Linked DNA regions of Homo sapiens. The protein of the gene in region 1 purifies or fractionates together with the protein of each later gene. This does not show direct contact. Each region holds a gene or a part of one and is shown on either strand. Other genes may lie near its edges.

Evidence for each region.
Region 2: the proteins of SLC25A21 (region 1) and TBX20 purify together in Homo sapiens (affinity purification with mass spectrometry; 3 studies listed by BioGRID and IntAct, with this or other methods). This does not show direct contact.

What each region holds. Positions count from the first base shown.
Region 1 is NC_000014.9:37,169,573-37,177,094, forward strand, and holds the start of SLC25A21 (mitochondrial 2-oxodicarboxylate carrier), read right to left. Parts: upstream 3,035-7,522; 5' UTR 2,779-3,034; coding exon 2,709-2,778; exon of another isoform or gene 2,454-2,708; intron 1-2,453. UniProt on the Homo sapiens protein: Transports dicarboxylates across the inner membranes of mitochondria by a counter-exchange mechanism.
Region 2 is NC_000007.14:35,202,081-35,209,117, reverse strand, and holds the end of TBX20 (T-box transcription factor TBX20), read left to right. Parts: intron 1-4,535; coding exon 4,536-4,648; intron 4,649-6,347; coding exon 6,348-6,688; downstream 6,689-7,037. UniProt on the Homo sapiens protein: Acts as a transcriptional activator and repressor required for cardiac development and may have key roles in the maintenance of functional and structural phenotypes in adult heart.

The DNA.
Region 1 (7,522 bases):
AGGTCATAACACACACACACACACACACACACACAGAAGTGTTGTATTCATGGACAATACCAGTGATTAGAACTCCAGTGCCAGAGATTCAAATCTATTTTGTTTTTATTAAAATTCTTCCTCTCTTGTGTATTGATTTCTATCTGGCCCTTGACCAAGTATATATAATATGATTAGCCCACATGTACTACAGTGCAATAAAGATAAAGTTTTATGAAAATGTTTTTGGCCAAGTAAAAGAAAATATAATTCTTTTTTACTATTATGAAAGTATAAGTTACTCTAATCATTTATTAATAACTCCATAGTATTAACTATATAAATCAACTATGCTATTTTTTATCTTATAAATATCCTAATTTGCATTTATATTAGTTACATTTATAAGAATATATGATGGAATCACACATATTTATGCCAAATACTTATCACTCAACAAAACAGCATAAGTAGGATCAGAGTTTGATCTACTTTTTTTTTTTGAGACCGAGTCTCGCTCTGTCGCCAGGTTGGAGTGCAGTGGCACGATCTCGGCTCACTGCAACCTCCGCCTCCTGGGTTCAAGCGATTCTCCTGCCTCAGCCTCCCAAGTAGCTGGGACTGTAGCCGGACACCACCAAGCCCAGCTGATTTTTGTATTTTTAGTAGAAACGGGGTTTCACCATGTTGGGGAGGATGGTCTCGATCTCTTGACCTGGTGATCCGCCTGCCTCCGCCTCACAAAGTCCTGGGATTACAGGCGTAAGACACCGTGCCTGGCCGAGTATGATCTACTTTTAACATTCTTTGAGTTTAGCTGTGCCTAATACATAGTATGATCATATAAATTAGCATACAGGTGCTTATGAGTCATCAGTCTTAGCTTAGGATGTTAATCAATTGGCCTCACTTTCTCTTTGGACTAGCTGAGTTTTCTTTCATCAGGGTCATAGACTACAAATCAACGAGTCAGGTACAGAAGACAGAACCTTAGGCATTGCGGAATTTGACCAAAAATGGTAAATAAATTGGTGCAAATTCATCATCACAATTGGAAAACTGAAAGAGCAAGCAGTGGGGCCACTGCAATTATAATAACGGGTGGTGGCTCACGCCTGTAGTCCCACCACTTTGGGAGGTCAAGGGGGTCAGATTGCTTGAACCCAGGCGTTGGAGACCAGCCTGGACAACATGGTGAAACCCTGACTCTACAAAAAAAAAAATCCCCTTCCCCCACCTCCCCAAAAAACTAGCCGGGCATGGTGGTGGGCTCCTGTAGTCCCAGCTACTCTGGAAGCTGCAGTGAGAGGATCACTTGAGCCCGGGAGGTTGAGACCAGCCTGGGCAACATGGCGAAAGCCCGTCTCTACAAAAAAAATTAAAAAAAAAAATAGCCGGCATGGTGATGCGCATCGGTAATTCCAGCTACTCAGGAGGCTGAGATGGGAGGATTGCTTGAACCCGGGAGTTGGAGCAGCGAGCCGAGATCGCGCCATGGCAATCCAGCTCCGGTGCCTTCCAGTCTGGGCAACAGAGAGAGACTCCATCGAAAAGAAAAAGGGGGGAGGGGAGGGGAGGGGAGGGGAGGGGTGGGGAGGGGAGGGGAAAGATTTTACAATTTCCTGTAAGCAATGAATGGCTCTAATGTGATATTGATGAAATACCATCTTTAAGAAAGTGTACAGATTGTAAGTGACACGTGGCTGCTTACGTTACTCCTGAGATGCAAGTAGATCATGACATAATGATAACCAGTCATAATTTGCAGTAATCCCTTACAAAAAGTCCAAATTTGTTTGAAAATACAGAAACTTTTACTAGTCGAAGTTAAACATTAAACATTTTCTAGTCATTGCCTTAACAGGATTTATTAGAGTTACTATAATTTATTGAAAGAATGGCTAGATTTATAAAATGTTTTCTGGTTATGAGCCAATTATGGCAATTATTTTAATTATATATTTATAATAAAAATGCATGACTGTAAGATAAAATTTTAAACCAAATCATAATTTATATTTTAAAATAGCTTTAAAATACTTGCACATAACACATGTCGTGGTTAGTAACTTTCTCCAGCTACATTTAAAAGTATTTCTAAGATTAATTACAACATTTTTTTCTAAAGGTTTATTTTTTCCCCACAGCATAACTCTATAAATTAACGTGAGCCCATTATATCAAAGGTGTTTATGTGTGTTACATATGCATTTAATTTTAATATCCTTATTTAAGGCACGAATATCCCCAAGCAAGCACAGTATGCAATAAGAAGTCCTGTGGAGTCCTGTAAGTACTTTGATGAGGAATGCAGGATTTATGTAAGACCTGAGCGAGCTTGAAGAAAGACTCTACAATTGATAAAACTAAGTCAGACCGAACTGGATCATTTTCAAGTAAAATAGGTAGCAAGGCAAAAAGACCGCCTCAAAGTCGCTGCCCTTGGGGCTCTGCCACTTGCTTTACAGGCTAGGAACGGACAATGCCGGGAACCCGAGAGCGGCCGGCGCGGACGCCGAGGCAACTTTACTTGGGGCACCCACTACTCGCAATCAACTCCCGGCCTCCTCTGCTCTCGCGCCTCTAGGGGCTCAAGCACTGCTCCGGGAGCGCTGAATTTTGAGGAAGAGGGCAGAACTTCAGTAAGGAGACCTGTCTGGGCAACGGTTTCAGGACACGCGGTGGGGAAAGCGACTAGCCTCCGGCGGGGCAGGGCGGGCTGTCCTTACCTGCAGAACCACCGGCCACGATCTGCCGAGAAGCCTCGCGCACTAAGCTGACTTCAGGCTTGGCGGACATCTTCGCCAGGCGGGAGGACAAGGGAGTGGGCTGAGATGCGTCAACGAGCTCGCAGCCTGCACAGCCTACTGATCCAGAGAGCCCCGGCTGGGCTGGTCCTCAAGCGCGTTGGCTCCCTGTGGAGCAGCAATCCGGCGACTGCTGGAAAGCGAGGGTTCGAGGCGCAGATTCGTCGCGCGATCTCCGGCGCGTCGGAACCTGTTCGCAGCGCTCTCGCAGAGGCGCCCTCGGCTCCGAAAATGTCTCTGGAAAGAAGACCCGCGGATGGGTTTGGGTTGGCTCACCGCAGCGGCTCAGGCTTTGTCTCCTAGATTGGCGCCCACGCCCTTCTCTATCAGGAGCCTCCGGTAGTTTGTCAAACTAGACGGTTGCCTCTGATAACTCAAGTGAAGTGACCCAGGCCTGGAGCGCCAAGTACAAAGCGGGGACGACACTTGCACCTCCTGGCAAGCCAGAGCACAGTGAGGTTCAAAAGAAGGGACAAGTGAATAAATTCCTCAGTTAGTTGTCCTATAATTGTGGTCTGTAGCAACTAAGTCAAAGCAAATCTAATTTACACTTACCTTACAATAGAGCTAAGGTAGTACTTTACCAAAAATGGTTTTGATTTAAGGTAAAATCATACCTCATCAACTTGAGTTTTATTTACCTAAGGACCAAAAGAAGAAAAAGCCTGGTTACAAATAGTTTCTTCTATACCCAGGTCAGTGGTTCTTAAAAGTGGTTTTAGTACCCACAGCATCAGCATAATTTGTGAATGTGTTAGGAAGTCAAATTCGTGGGTCCCACCCCGACCTAAACGGAATCAGAATCTCTGGGGATAGGGCCCAGAAACGAGTTCTCTGTTGATTGTCATGAACTTTAAAGGTTGTGAACCACTGACTTAAACAATTGAGGAACATTAAGGAACTTAACAGTATATTCTCTCAATAAAATGTTTGATTATTCTTACTAGCCCCTTAGGATAGTTACCAAAACAAAACTACTAATTTATACTCTTTTAAAACTACAAGTTGCCTGTGTTATGTAGGAGAGATATAAGATTGTGAAATTTTCCAAAAATACCTGCCACACCCCTAACAGACAGGAGATGATAAGAGTAAAAGAGAGAATTGGGAGGCTTTAGAAGCCCTATTGTAATATTTCTTAAAACACATTATTTATTGCTAAATATATTTAGTGTGAGCCATGTAAAAATTGCCATTTTTGGAGGTCAAAAACCGTTGAATATCAGCAATTTAGTATGGTTCAATTTATGTGGTTTCTAATCAAATGTACAAAGTACAATAATTTGGTTTCATACTTGATTTTTTATTTCTTAGGCTGAGTCATTAAAAGTTGATCAGTGATATATGGCAAAATTATTTAAAGTGCTTGAGGAATTGGGGAGACTTGCTGCTTATGTGATCAGATATACAAAAATAAAGTTTTTCATTTCATTAAATATTTGATTAAAACTGCTAAGTTTGAAAATGTTTACCAAGAAATAGTTTTCAGAAATTTTGCTAACTTGATAAAGGCTTTTGAGCAATATCTTTCAGACTTTTTACTAATTAAATAGGGAATCTTGAGTGCAATATAGAATCACTTATTCAACAAATATTGAGAACCTGTTATATACTAGGTATAGAAACAGAATTTCAGAGCTCATAGAAAATGTTTTCCTCATTTTTCAAAGCAGAAGCTGAGTTTTCCAAGATCACACTAGGCGTAATAGTATAGCTGGGATTCCATCACAGGACTCCTTCTTTTGATAGCATTGGATTGTAGATTTAAATATTAACCACAGGCTAAAAAAACTACATTCTGTGACACAAATACCCCCACAAATTAATTCCATTTTTTTTTAGTTTTTAAAAATTTGGTCACAACTATTAAACCCTAGTGCACACACTGAAACAGATTCTACACTGAGAGCTCACTAAGTGTTAGCACTTGCCTAGGTACTGACAATATCACTACAAATCCCTTCCCTGTGGCACTTACAATCTAATGGAGGAGATCCTACCACCTTGTAAGTAAATTTTTGCCTTCCCTACGTTATCCAGGAAATGCAATAATACTTTTAGGTCAAGATTTAAAGACAATCTTTTGACATAATTATTTCCATGAGTGTCTTCCCCTCTGAAGATCTTATCCATGGTAGGTGGGAGCAAGTTTGTGTCTAAGACCCAGCCTCTAAAAAGCTCTGTGGATTCAGTTGGAAAACTCCCAGTTATCCTTGTTAAAAAGTTACTTCCTCTTTTTAACCTCTCCAGACTAGAAGAGATATCTTTGAGTGAAAAAAGCAAGACTTGATATCACATATAATCCAGTCCTATACCTCTAGAATACTAGAGGATATGGGGCCTAGGCATGAGAACATTCTAGAGCTTGGGAGTTAACAAGAGTCAATACAGAGCCAATAAGTACTCACTGTGCTAAACGCTCTGATAATGGAATGTAATTCTTATCTGCAGCTAAATTTGCTCATGGCCAATATTGGAATGCTGGAAGATTTAGTACTGGGAAGCAATGGTAATATTTACTTGACCTATTTCAGATTCCCTAGCCTCTATTACATTGTTGTTCTATTATTATTTGGAATAGTGATGTGATATCCTAATGGGGCAAAACTGCTAAAGTATGAAGATTATATTCTTTAAATTATTGATTTATTTAGCTGATCTTGGTTGATAATTACATGATTATTGACTTCCCTATCGTTTGTCAAGTGGCTAAAAAAACCCTTCAGGAACATAACTGGGAATCTAGGAGTTAAGAAAGCCTCTAAGCCATCAACATGCAGAAATCCATTTAGAACTAATTTTAGAACCAGTTTTTAAAAGGGTGGATATCTGATTTCTTGTTTCATATCAGATTAGAAATAACATATTAAAAGATAATTGGATTGTTTGGGGAGAATAGGGGAGGTTCTAGGAAAGTAAAGAGCAATCTGCAACCTTCAGGCCATATTCAACCTATCTAGTCAATTGTAGTAACAACATTCATTGACTTTACCTTCTCCCAGAAACTGGGCTAATTAAGCATTTTGTAATCCATTATCTCATTCCTGTTTTACAAAGGAGGAAACTCTGGCACTGAGATTAAGTAACTCCCCCAAAATAACACTGAGTATTCGGCTAAGGTATTAATTTGAACGTAAGTATAATTTAGGAGCCCTCTATTTGTTAGGCTATGGTTTTTTGTTTTGTTTTAATTTTTAAAACAATCTTTTTTAGAGACAAGGTCTTTCTATGTTGCCCAGGCTGGTCTGGAACTGCTGGACTCAAGCAATTTTCCCATCTATGCCTCCCAAAGTGCTGGGATTACAGGTGTAAGCCACACCAGGCCTGGCCAGGCTATGTTTATTATTAGACCTTCTATGATTAGGCTATATTATTAAGCTACTATTTATGGGGGTTTTTTATTGTCGTTGTTGTTGCTGCCGTTTTGTGAAATGGAGTCTTGTCCTGTTGCCCAGGCTAGAGTGCAATGGCACTATCTCAGCTCACTTTAACCTCCGCCTCCCGGGTTCAAGCGATTCTCCTCAACCCCCTGAGTATATGGGATTACAGGTGCACACACCACACCTGGCTAATTTTTGTGTTTTTAGTAGAGAAGGAGTTTCACCATGTTGGTCAAGCTGGTCTCAAACTCCTGGCCTCAAGTTATCCACCAGCCTCAGCCTCCCAAAATGCTGGGATCGCAGGCCCAGCCTGTTGTTATTTAAAACAAAAAATGTCTAATAGTGAGGGCATTTCGCCAAGTTGCCTAGGCTAATCATGAATCCTGAACTCAAGCCATCCTCCCACCTTGGCCTTCTAAAATGTTGGGATTATGGGTGTGAGCCCCGGCTAGCATGAATTTTCTAAGTCAGACCAAAGAACTGTTGACAGGTAATTTTTTGTTGAAGGAGGCTGTTCTGTGCATTGTTGGATATTTAGCAGCGTCCCTGACCTCAGTCCAATAGATGCCAGTAACAACTCCCTCCCGATTATGATCACCAAAAATGTCTCCAGACATCGCCAAGTGTTCCAGAGGTCACTTCTCTGATATCATTTTATTTAACTTTCCAACATTTGGGAAAAAAAAAAAAAAAACACCTGACCACCCTTTGTTTAAAAACTTTCTTTTCTGATTGTGTCAAAATTAAAGGGCTGGGCACAGTGGCTCACGACTGTAATCCCAGCACTTTGGGAGGCCGAGACAGGCAGATCACCTGAGGTCAGGAGTTCCAGACCAGCCTGACCAACATGGAGAAACCCCGTCCCTACTAAAAATACAAAATTAGCCAGGTGTGGTGGCGTGTGCGTGTAATCCCAGCTACTCAGGAGGCTGAGGCAGGAGAATCACTTGAACCTGGGAGGCGGAGGTTGCAGTGAGCCCAAATTGTGCCATTGCAATCCAGCCTTGACAACAAGAGCGAAACTCTGTCTCAAAACAAAAAAACAAAAAAAACAAAAACAAAAAAAACCTTTCTCCTCTTGGCTTCTATGATACCACACTTTCCTGTATTTCTTACTTCTGTGTGGTCTGATCTTGTTTTTTCCGTTTTCCTCCTACTATACCTAATATCTATTGGAGTGCTCCAGATGTTGGGTATATACTCTCTTCTTTTGTTTATCCATATTCTCTTCTCAGGTAAACTCATCCAGGGCCTTAGTTAAAAGTAATTTTTATACACTGATGACTCCCCAGTTCTTATTTCCAGCCATGGAAATAACCAACGTCCCTGAATCTCCAGAATTATGTATCCAGTTAT
Region 2 (7,037 bases), on another chromosome or scaffold:
ATTTTAGGAAATTGAATTAAAAAAACGATAATATGTCATAAATAACTAGGGCCTAGTTCAGGACTGCAAGGTCGATTTAACATTTGAAATTCAATGGATGTAATGACCATGCTGACAAACTAAAAACAAAACTATATGATTGTCTCAACAGACACAGAAAAAGCATTTAGCAAAATTCAACCTCTATTCTTGAAAACTCTCAGCAAACTAGGAATAGAAGAGAACCTTTAGTCTAGTAAATTGTATGTACAAAAAACCTAGAATGAATATTATATCTAATGGTGAAAAATTGAATGCTTTCTGTAAGATAAAGAACAAGTTATTGATGTCTGTTCTTTTTTTTTTTTTTTTTTTTTTTTTTTTTTTTTTTTTTTTGAGACGGAGTTTCGCTCTTGTTGCCCAGGCTGGAGTGCAATGGCTCAATCTTGGCTCACTGCAACCTCCAGCTTCTGGGTTCAAGTGATTCTCCTGCCTCAGCATCCCGAGTAGCGGGGATTACAGGCATGGGCCATCATGCCCAGCTGATTTTGTATTTTTAGTAGAGACGGGGTTTCTCCATGTTGGTCAGGCTGGTCTTGAACTCCCGACCTCAGGTGATCCGCCCACCTTAGCCTCTCAAAGTGCTGGGATTACAGGCGTGAACCACTGTGCCTGGCCCATTCTTACCACTGCTAATTCAACATTGTACAGGTAGTTTTAGCCATTGCAATAAGTCAGGAAAAATCAAAGTCATTGTGATTGAAAAGACAGAAGTAAAACTATCTTTGTGTACAGGCATCGTGAATATCTATACAGAAAACCCAAATCTCCAAAACCCACTAGAACAAATAAGTGTTTGGCAAGTTCACAGAATACAAGATCAATATACAAAATAAATTGTATTTCTATCTATTATAAATGAATATCAGAAATTGAAGTTAAAAAGCAATATTTACTATAATACGAAGTAGGGAAAATCTGGAAAGGATATGCAAGACATATATACTTAAAACTACAAAAACATTGTTGAGAGAAATTAAAGAAGACCTAATGAAACAGAAGGATGTACTGGTTCATGATTTGAAGGATGCAATATTAAGATATCAGTTATGCACAAATTGATATGTAGATCTAAAATAATCCTGACCAAAATCACAGGAGTCTTTTTTGTAGAGATTGACAAAGTAATATTAAATTTCATATGGAAATGCAAAGAACTAGAATAGCCAAAACAACTTTGAAAAAAAAGATAGAGTACTAATACTACCTAATGTCAAAAGTTCTAACACTTTTATTCAGCTACAATAATCAAGACAGTATAGTTTTGGTGTCAAGTTCCACGAACACATCAATAGAATAAAGAGTCCAAGAGTAGACCCACATGTATGTGATGGAGAAGGGACAGTCTTCTCAACAAGTAATGTTGAAATAATGGGATATTCATAAGCACAAAAATAAACAATTCATAACTCATTCATATATAAAATTAACTCAAGATGAATCATAGACACAAACATAAAACCTCACACTATAACACTTACAGAAAAAAACTAGGAGAAAACTTTTGTGGTCTTGGGCTAGGCAAAGATCTTAAAATATGGCACCAAAAGCGTGATCCATAGAATTACAAATGGATAAATTGCACTTCATCAAAATTAAAAACTCTGCTTTTGAAAAGAAACTGTTTAGGAAAGAGAAAACGCAAGCCACAGCCTAGAAGAAAATATTTGCAAATCATATATTCTATAAACACCAGTGCCCAGAATATAAAAAGAAATCTCAAAACTCAGAAAACAAATAACCTAATTTTTTAAACAGATTATTAACAGCTAGAAATATGGAAGCAAATAAGCACAGAAAAAGATGTTCAACATTGTAGTCATTAGGGGAACACAATTAAAAGTATGATGGAATACCAGCACATGCATATTACAATAGCTAAAATTAAACATTGACCATATCAGGCATCAGTGAGAGTATAGAGGACCTGGAGTTCTCATACACTGATGGTGGGAATGCTAAATTGTATGACTACTTTGACAAATAGTTTGGCAGTTTCTTTAAAAATTGCACATATATGCAATTTAGTCATTTCATCCTTAGATGTCTTTCCAAGATAAATAAAAGTATATGTCCATTTGTTAAAAAGTATGCATGAATATGTGTAGCAGCTTCATTTTAACATTCAAAAACTAGAAACAAGTCAAATATCCATCAATAAGTGAATAAACCATAATATATCCATGCAATATAATGCTACTCAGTACAAGAAATATTAATGTATGCCCCAACATGATAAATCTTAAAATATGCTGAGTGAAATAAGCCAGATAAAAAAGAATATATTAGCTAAGATTTCATCTTTGTAAAAGTTTAGAAAATGCAGACTAATCTGCAAGAACAGAAATTATATTAGTGGTTTCCTTGGAAAGGTTTGTTGCGATGGGGACCATGGAGCATAGGAGCTTGAGGAAGCTAGCTTTTGTAGGTGTTAGATATTTTTGTTATTGTGCTTGTGGCAGTGGTGTCAGTGGTGCGTACATATGCCCAAACTGATCAAACTATACACTTTATTTCTATTTTTATTTTTTTAAGATGGAGTTTCACTCTTTTGTCTAGGCTGGAGTGAAGTGGCACGATCTCGGCTCACTGCAGCCTCTGCCTTCAGGTTCAAGCAATTCTCCTGCCTTAGCTTCCTGAGTAGCTGGGTTTATAGGTGCCCACCACCATGCCTGGCTGATTTTTGTATTTTTAATAGAGACAGGGTTTTGCCATGTTGGCCAGGCTTGTCTTGAACTCCTGACCTTGGGTGATCCACCCGCCTGGGCCTCCCCAAGTGCTGGGATTACAGGTGTGAGCCACCGGCCCCGGCTCCGGCCCCATACACTTTAAATGTGTGCCACTTTTTGTATTTTAATCATATCTCAATATAGTTTGTTTGTTTCAAGATCCCTAGTTGATTCAAACATACACACAAATTTGAGAATCACTACTCTAATCCTTCAAGTCCCTGATTTCACCCTGCAGAGGCAACCTCTTCTAGGCAGTTTCTTGTTCTGGAAACTGGAACATTCTAGAAATCCTGTGCACATGCAGGCATATATGAACATACATATCCTGTGTTCTAACTTCACAAATGGTAGCATACTTTACATAACATTCTGTATTTTACTTTTTTCACTTACTATATCTTGAAAATTATTCCATATCTATACATATGGAATGACCTCATTCTTTTTGACACCTATGTGTTAATGCAGTGGATCTGGATCCTAATTATTTTGACTATAAGAGGTGGTACTTTATTCTTACTCTAAAATAATTTGAGAATAGAGATGTAACTTAAATAGTTGCAGAGTTAATTTTCCTTTTAGGCATATCCTTAAGTCCTCATAGTCATAGTCATACTATATATTATAAAATGCCTTCATCTATGTGGGTATATAAGCTTTCTACAACACCAAATTTACTATGAATTAGGTAGTAATTTTTCACAGGTAAAGTTTGCATATTTATGTGAAATGTTGACAAGTGTTAACATTTTAAAAAGTTATTATGACATTTTATTTGCTTTGCTTATTCCCTCAATATGAAATGTGGTGTTTGGTTGTCCTTCCTCATTTAACACATATTTTATAAGTCTTCTTTTGTCCTTTGCTGGTCAATTTGGCATTGGTCTTTGGGCCACAGCTGTTCCAGAAATGTGTGCCATGCAGACTAATCTGTTATCAGTATGCACTTTTGGCGAACAAATTGGCTAAAATTGTACTGGCTTTTTTTTTTTTAAAAGCAGAAGGTCAAATTGTCCAATGCCAAATTTTTTTTTTATTTTTTAAAGTTAACCTCACTGTTTGGTTGATAGACTATGTTACAGGAGGAAGACCATCTACAAGACAATGTACCAATTTACCTAGAGGCTAAAACTCCTTATTGGTCATTTGTGTTTTCTTCATGGGTTTTTTGTAATTTTCAGTCTTACAGCAACAAGGATCTTAGTGTTCATTACCCAAACTATCTATATTGTACTATAATCTATGAATTTGTTTGATTTCTTGGTGAATATTAGAGTCTTTCGCTGACTAATGATAATTTGAACTTTTTGCCAACATTTCATTGGTTGTTGGATCAGTGCAATTTGTATCAACTGAGTATTTGTTTTGTATTTGTTAGCTGATGAAGTCAGTAAGAAGAGTCATTGCAGCTCCTTGCAGTAAATTCATTCACTCATTATTTTTCACATCATGGAATTTCATATTCTTGTGGTCAGGTTTCATAGCTCCTGTTCACCCCTTTGTCCTTCATTTTAAAGTATTTCAGGGGATTGTCCTTGTCCTAGTCAGTCATGTTTGCTTGCAGTCATACACCTGAGGTCATGTCTCTGAGGAGTCACTGTACAACAGAATAAATGTACATGTTTTGAATTTCATCTTTCTGTGCAGTGGTTGCTTTTTGGCTGAGAAAATGGTTTTACTGATTAGTGAGTTACCTCTAAGACCTCTCTGTATCTCTGAGTCCTTTACATTTTACTTAACCTGTGATATGTCACTCTAACCTAGGGAAAGTGTGGAGAGCCTGATTCAAAAGCATTCCTATGCACGCTCACCCATCCGTACCTACGGAGGAGAAGAAGATGTCTTGGGGGATGAGAGTCAGACAACCCCAAATCGAGGTAAGGTAGTTTCCAAGGCCATGGAATTGCTGGGAGGCAGAGCACCTAAAGGAGAATGGGGGCAGGTCGTTGATGAGATGGCCAGTCCTCAGAGTACACGATGCCGGGAAAGGATTTCAGGAGCCTCCTTGGGAAGGGAGAGCCCCGACACTGATCCTCACAGATTTCATTATTTTGCCTTTGAATCATAGGCGATGATGCTGCCTGCAGGTTTCCTATGGTTTGTTTTTTTTTTAAGTGAAAGAATACTGAGCCTTTGAGTCAGGGATCAGGAGTTACTTGTCCATGACTTAGTACATAAGAGCTGTTGAACTTTGGGGGCAGTCACCAAGTCCTTCTGAACCTCAGTTTCATAATCTGAAAGTCAGGGAATATATCTGTTCCATCTATGTCAGGTATAATTTGTTAGAATCAAAGACCAAAATAGAAAACACTTTTAAAAGAGGATTGTCCTAATGAAGGATATTACATAGAGGAAGTGGCCCCAGTGTTGACAGCAGGAACTGAACAAAGTTTCTCTGTTCCCAAGGCTTAGAGAGCAGCCCTCTGCATCTGGGAAGAGAGTCCAGAGAAAAGAGCCCAGAGGGGCTCCATTCTGGGAACAGTAAAGTTCGTATGGGGAGAGAGTCCTCTGCATTGTTTTATGTCCTTAATATGAAATTATATAATCTGTGAAAACATAGGACATTTCTTATTACTCAGTCCAAGTGAACCACTAGTATTACAGTTGACTCTTGAACAACACAGTGGTTGGGGAACCAACTCCTGTGTGGTCCAAAACGTGCATATAACTTTTCACTTCCTAAAACTTAACTGCTAATAGCCTACTGTTGATCAGAAGCCTTACCTGTAACATAAACAGTCAATTCACACATATTCTGTATGTTACATGTATTACATTCTGTATTCTAATAATCAAGCTAGAGAAAAAGTTATTAAGAAAATCATAGAAAGGAAATATATTTACTATTCCTTAAGTGGAAGTGGATCATCATAAAGGTCTTCATCCTCATCTTCACACTGAGTTGGCAGATGAGGAAGAGGAGGGGTTGGTCTTGCTGTCTCGGAGGTTGTAGAGGCTGAAGAGGTGGAGGAGGTGAAAGTGAGGCAAGAGGGGTCAGGCCTACTCAGTGTAAATTGTAGTGAAAAATATCTGCATGTAAGTGGACCCGTGCTGTTCTAACCCCTGTTGTTCAAGGGACAACTGTATACAGTCAGAAAATTCATTGTCAACTCTATTCTAAATTTCTGGATGCTGTGGTGGGAAAACTTACTTTCTTAGGTTCTCACAACAGTTTTGGAAACCAGACAGCTTGGTAGATATTTCTTACATTCAGCCTTCCTTAGGACACTACAGAGGTCAGAACAGATATCAGGTATTTGCAGCTTTTTTTAAGAGAATCAGGTCATTACCTGCAGGCAGGGTATTAATGTTTTGGCCAGTCTGTGGGAGTGTACAGGCTATCCAATGAGTTGTCTTTTTCCATTTAGTAAATTCTCTATTCCATGCAAGGTGTAAATATCATCTTCTTACCTAGAAAAGTAGATTTGCCTCGTGACAGATCTCATATGTGTTTGTCTTTCTAAATTACAGACGTATTAAATATTCTTAAACACAAATTGATCTTTACAGATAATTTAATTCTTGATCTGTACATTGACACAGTGTTTCCAGTCTAATGAGTGTTTTTCCTTACAGGGTCAGCCTTTACAACATCTGATAATTTGTCTCTCAGCTCCTGGGTATCATCTTCTTCCAGTTTTCCTGGGTTTCAGCACCCACAGTCCCTGACTGCTCTTGGCACCAGCACAGCATCCATAGCAACACCCATTCCTCACCCCATCCAGGGTTCTCTGCCACCATATAGCCGACTGGGAATGCCTCTGACACCATCGGCCATTGCCAGCTCCATGCAAGGGAGTGGCCCCACATTCCCTTCATTCCACATGCCGCGATACCATCACTATTTTCAGCAGGGGCCCTATGCTGCCATTCAAGGACTACGCCATTCCTCTGCTGTGATGACGCCATTTGTATGACTCTTCTAAAAATGGGAGAATCCAGATCCAGAATGTGCAAGTGGGTATGGAAATATAGGACAGGGCTGGGTGGGTGGGATGTGGGGTATCGGAGCAGGGGCTTTCCAGGAGACACAGGACCTATCAAAGAGGAGAGCCAGACTCACAATAAAACCTACCACTGAGGGAATGCACCACGGACCAGGATTCATCTGAGGGACAGCTCTTGGGTTCAGGAGAGAATCCATGTAAAGTTCTCAGCCAGCCTGAAAGTTTACTAATACAAGGCTGATGAATCTTAAAGTGCATTATTCCTCATGGTTAAAACGCTGTGTTCATGCAGTAATGTATAAAATCATTGTGTGTAGGG